2 separate regions of the Homo sapiens genome follow, and region 1 is linked to region 2. Evidence: fine-mapped expression QTL. A gene starts in region 2. The other region holds a variant in brackets. All regions are shown on one strand. Distances are between the middles of the regions.

Region 1 (2,908 bases), 34 kb before region 2:
ACATGTAAAAGACCCCACGACAATTGCTGACAGAACTGGAACAAGAAACCAGCTGTCCTAAAGCCTTGATCTCCTAGTTCCCCTTCATCACGGGGGCTTCACACATCCGGTCTCCCAGTAACATATCACTTGAGTGTCATGGTCACTTTGTAACCCCAAAACTTGGTGGATTGCTGTCTTGAATCATATACCCTTTGGGAGTCCCTCAGAAAGACCATTTCCTATCTCATGTAGACTAAGGAGAGACGCGACTTTAGTTACCTCAGTTAGAACAGACCAGCTTTAACAGAGTGAGATTCCTGTGCTTTGGAAGAAATCACTTGGAAATCCTTGGTTCTGAGTCCTCCATTTCTTCCACATCAAGATCTAAAAAGAAAAAAAAAGTGCAGTGTCCCATGACTAGCTGCTAGGATTTCATCTTTTAGCAACAATAATAACTGCAATTAGCACATATTGAACACATAAGTCAAACACCCACAAAGTGGTTGACATATGTGGTTTCGTGTTGTCTTCATAACAACCTTCAGATGTAGGGAACATTCCCCCATTTTACAGCTATAGAAACGGAGACTCTAATGGACCACGGAACCTGTTCAAGGTCACACAGCTGGTGTATGTGACAATTAGGACTCAAATCCAGATTCAATTGATTCCAAGGCCTGGGCTATTAACCAGTAAGTCAGGGTTTTAAAAACATTTCAGACAGTGACCCACGGTTTTAAAAATTTACATTATATAAACCGAAAACCAAAAGTCTCATAAAACAATGCTTACCCTTACTATGTGCAATGCACGTTATTTTTTCTATTCTTCTCTGTATTGTACTATATATTCTATATCTTTAAGAAGATTTCCAGTAGCAACCCGCTAAACTGATCCCACAATCTTAGAATGGGTCCCCCACTCTTGAAAAACGCTACACTTAGATATAGCGACTCACTAGCTGCTTCTCTGAAACCAGGACAAAACTCTTCCACATTTTGTAACCATGAGAATCTGACCAAGTAGTTGAGCTTCACAGAAGAAAAGTCTTTAACCTTTAAAATATGTATAAGGCACCATAACACATATCACCTATAATCGATCCTTAGAAGGGATACTCAATTAGGGCCAACGTCCAGAATGGAATTAGGCACTTACCTACCGCAGTGCAGGAGTTATAAAGTGGAACCGCGGACAGACTAAAATCTCAGGTGATTTATGATGTACCCTATAAAAAAAGTGGCTAACGGCGGGCGGTTGTGTTGTATGTTGTACCAACAGAGCAGACCTTACTACTGCAGAAGTAGGCGGCTGAGACTGCAAACCCCTGGGGGCAGG[T/G]CCCTGCCTTTGCACGTCCCTTTCAATTCCAGGGGCTTGGTGTTGCATCAAGGAAATCATCAAGTTCCCATAGGGTCAGGACTAGGGTCCGATTCCCAATCCAGGAGACGGGAGGTGTGACTGTCAAAGCAGTGCCCGAGCCCGCTGGACTCGAGCCCACCACGTCCCCAGCCCCGGGAGCGCATTCCTCCTCGGCCCCCGCCCTCTAGCACAGCCGCGCAGTTGGGCCACGGGATGCGGCGCAACCTGCCCGCACTCTCCAGCCGAACCCACCCCGCCCCGCCCCGCTCCGGGCGCGGGCCCCGGAGTCCGGGCACCTGCGGGCGCTTCCTCCCCGCGGGCAGCTCGGTTCTGCTGCGTTTGCAGAGCTCAACCCTTGCGAGGGTTTCCCCAGCCCGGCTTCCCGGCTCCCTCCAGAAGCGAGGAGCGATCGGGCTGGCGGCGCCACGGGCGCCGCGCCCGCAGGCCGCGCCTCGCCCCGCCCCGCCCCCGGCCCCGCGAAGACCCTGCGAGGGGCACTTACGGGGCTCGGCTCCTTCGCCGCCGGCGCGTTTCCCCGGGGGTCCATGGTGCTTCCGGACCCGTGAGTCCGGCCGCAGCGCTGCACAGCACCGCCCAGAAAATGGACGCCGGCGGCTCGGCTCTGCCGGCCCGGCCCGCCCCCGGCGCGGGGCAGAGGACGCAGCCCGTCCGGGAGGAGGTCGGCCCGACCCGCAGCCCCGCGGGCCCGGGGCTGGGGTAACTGCGGCGCCAAGGACCAGGCCTCAGGAGGGCGGCGGCGGGACCCGTGAGGGCCCCGTAAGGCCCCATGCCCGACCCAGTGGCCAGCCGGGGCCCCCCACCAAGGAGGCAGCGGCCTCAGCCTCCTCAGGGAGGACACAATTCAGAACCTGCCGAAGGACAACGCAGTTAGGACTCTGGGCCACAGAGCCTGGTGACTGTCAGAACAAGGCCTCGGGCCGCAGAAGGGTCCGTGGGCTCCTGTTCGAGACTATGCACACTGGATTCGCAGAAAGTCGCTGTTTCAATTGCATCAAATTCTCAGGAATAAGGAGTCACCTGTGTTTTTTCCATGGCCGTCAAGAGAGGCCTAGATAGATTTTTCCCAACGTGGCACAGAAACTATTTCACGCAAAAGACCCAGTCCTCTTCTTTAAATGAAGGGCCCTGGCCGCTGGCATCTTTCTTCCAAGATCCAGGGGCTGCTCATTGAAAAAGTATTCAGAGAGGGCCTGCCACAAGCTGGCCATGTGGAGCTAATGCACGAATAATGGACAGGTGTTTTTTTTTTTAAATCGTCCATGTTCCCTGTGTTTTGACAGTAGAGTCTTATTCTTAAATTTTCTTAAAAAAAAAAAAAATTCAAGGCCACAGCTTAAAAGGATTAAAAAGTCAATTCTTTACGTTTTCAGCCAGGAATCTACAGTACTTGCAATTCTGCATCCCAGTTCCTGACCATGTTTTAAGAATGTGATCACTTGATGAATAGATTCCAATATTAAATATAAAGCCAACAAAACATTTTAAATAATGAGGGAAAAATATATTGACTCCAGGTCAAATTAAATAATCATGTTATTTAAAAATA
Region 2 (2,908 bases):
GACAGTTGCCCCACTGACCTGTACTGTTACATGAGCAAGAAATAAACTATTGTGTTTGAGCCATTATAGATTTGGGGTTCTATTATAACAATTAGCCTATCCTAATATCCTTTTTAATATAGCTGTAATCATTGTGTACAGAAATCTCTGTGCCCTTTCCCCTTTTCTTTGAATCTTACCACAAACTAAAAAAGGAGAATTGGGAGACTTAAATTTAAGTAGCTGTTGGGGACAAATGACACTTACCAAATTAGTGGTCACAACATTCAGATCTTAGAGCCAGAAGAACAGGACTACAGCAGAGCCTCACTTCAAGACAACCTAATATATTAAAGTAAAACAAAAAGTAAAACATAAGGCCTATAAAACAGATATTTTAGTGTGTGATAGTTAATTTCCAAAGGGAGTTGTCCATTTACAAAGGAATATGCCACTGTTTTCCAGTAAATGACAAGCTTCCTTACTGCCTTTAAAATGAGACTTACGCCTCCCCGCTCCCAGTCATTTTAACATAGAATTTCTGAAGAACAGATCTCCCCTGGTACGTCAGCTATACGAAGACTAGATGCTGACTCAGGGGATGACTTAGAAGCCGGGAAAATCAGGGTATGATTTCTATGCCTACGTGCTGTTCTCATGTATGTGTCAAAACTTTTCTCTTGGGAACTTAACTTTCTTGGGTAGGAACTTCCAGAGGTCGTGAAATTATAGGCTTTGTAAAGAACTATGAGTTTTTAGACAAAGTTAAAACAGACACATTGTGTCTTTGTGCTTAATATCATCCCAGATACGATGGCACAAGTAGGAATGAAAATAAGTCCTCTGTAAACAGGGCGATAAGATAATGGAGGTTCATACACAGAACAATCAGAAACGTGCTCAGTAAAGGCAGCACAATTATGTACATCTTTTTACCAGGGCTGTCATATTTTACCAGGTTAAGTGTGAAAATACCATTTGATGGCACAGGACACGTATTTGCCTAGAACAGGGTTTATTTTTATGTCTGATCGCTCAGTATAAGATCTAGGAAGCAAACAATCCAGAACTCTGAACAAACATTCTGACAGCCTGAAACGGAATACTCAGGTGAGGGGAGGAAGAGGAGGCAAAACAAGAGGGTTGACAGGGAAAGGCATCAGTTGGGCTGTTCTCCCCAGGGTTTCCGTCTTAGTATTGTTTTTTTTTTTTTTTTTTGCATTCTTTTCTGATCCTGTGGAGAGAGATATCAGATCCCTTTGGGGCCGTATTTAGAGGGTCTCCCAAATGCAGTCCCTACTCCCAACTCTGGGCTGGGGCTTGGCAAGCTGTAGGCGTCAGGGAACAAGATGGCGCCCTACGGTGAAGGGCGCTGAGTGAGGGGGGGCCAAAAGTGGGCCTTCACTTACTCGGAGGCGCTGGCTCCTCTGAAACCCAGACGCTGTCAACTCCCTGGGCCCAGGAGTCACAACCGCTTTCGTGCTCTGGGTTCTTCACTTCTTGTGATCAGCTCCACATATTTTTCTGATGATGTCACCCATTCTGACTTCCTACATTTTGAAAGTTGATCTACAAGTAAAATCTTTCGTGAGGCTTAAAAAAAAGAAGAAAAGAAATAAAAGGTGTGCTATAGGGAGATGGAGAGGAAGAGAAAGGCCGTTGCCTCTTTATTTTGAGATTTGCTGCAGCTGCGAGTGCCACTCCCCAACTAGTTTCCTGGCTTCAGAGGGAGGCCAGTGGCCGGGCGTGGGTGACGTCAGGGCCAGGCCTGAGTCATCGCCAGCAGCCCGGGCCGGGCTGCCCTGCCACTCGGAAGGGGACAAAAGGAACCTTTGATGTCCAGAGGCCCTCCTCTCAGCACACTCGCCGGCACAGACCAGCAGGCCAGGAGAACATTCCTGCCGTCTCCCCACCCCCAGCCGCCCTTCCTACTTCCGGAACAGCCCCAGACAGATTCAACAAGGCCTCCCCAAAGGACATCACCCTCCTGCATGGCAGAGGCATGGCCGTGCTCTGTCAGAGAAGCAGGGAAGAAGAAGAGGGTGTTTCCCTGGGGACCTCTCACTGCCCCTCTGCCATCCCCCTTCTTCTGTGTGGTGCCCACCTTACTCAAGGAGTTGCAGTGGTATTGAAAGAGATGCGGAAAGGTGGAAGGCACTTTTGTCACCATCCCCGGGCAGCTCCTGGTGGTCAGTGTCTATTCTCCTCTGCCTCTGTGCTGTGGCCCTGGGCTTCGCTCCCTACCCTGGGTGCCAACATGAACTAGCTCTTCCTGGATTTAAGACATGACCACTCTTTAAAGGGGATATTTATATCTCAGTGCCTGGCATGAGGCTTGGTAATTATATGATGAATTAAGGAATGATAATTGTAAAATAAAATAGTAGAGGACACATATTAAATACTTAGAGTGAACATTCAAGCCTCTGTGCTTTATGAAGATTATTTCATTTATTGGTATTATCACAACAAAAAAGCTGTGAGGTAGGTACTATTAATATTCCTAATGCTATAGAGAAAGAAATGGATGCTCAGAGAGGTTAAGACACTTCTCTAAAGCCTCACAGCTAGTTAGTTCATGGCAGAGCCTGGATCATCTAATCTCACATCCTGTTTTCTTAATCACGGTGCTGAGTGGCTGGAGTGAATGAAGGAATATTGACCAAGGGCAACCTGGCCAGGAGAAAAGAGACAAAGATGGGACTTGAAACCACATCCTACAAGGAAACAATGAAACAATTAGGAATGTTCTGGCAACATGGGCCTCATGCCTTCTTACTGCGTCAACACCAGGTCTGAGGTTTGGCAAGTGGGTGGCTTACTCAGCGTAGCCAGGAGGGCGAATCAGTCATCAGGTTCAAGTGGGGATGAGAAACTAGGGAGGTCGGATGGACGCAAGCCTGTGGCATGTGGTAGATGCAAAATCCGA

Evidence for each region.
Region 1: its variant is fine-mapped to the expression of ZBTB38 in whole blood (TOPMed, PIP above 0.99).

What each region holds. Positions count from the first base shown.
Region 1 is chr3:141,401,385-141,404,292 of GRCh38, reverse strand. It overlaps ZBTB38 (zinc finger and BTB domain containing 38), which reads right to left. Exons shown (of 6, transcript NM_001376113.1): 5 at 262-366. Among named protein-coding and RNA genes, the nearest start is that of ZBTB38, 34 kb to the right of the region's middle. RefSeq lists silencers at 1,548-1,837, 1,918-2,227. The variant T/G (reference allele first, on the strand shown) is at 1,321.
Region 2 is chr3:141,367,285-141,370,192 of GRCh38, reverse strand. It overlaps ZBTB38 (zinc finger and BTB domain containing 38), which reads right to left and starts at 1,689. Exons shown (of 6, transcript NM_001376113.1): 1 at 1,389-1,689; 2 at 247-321. RefSeq lists enhancers at 563-1,338, 1,793-2,022, 1,088-2,287, 2,115-2,890.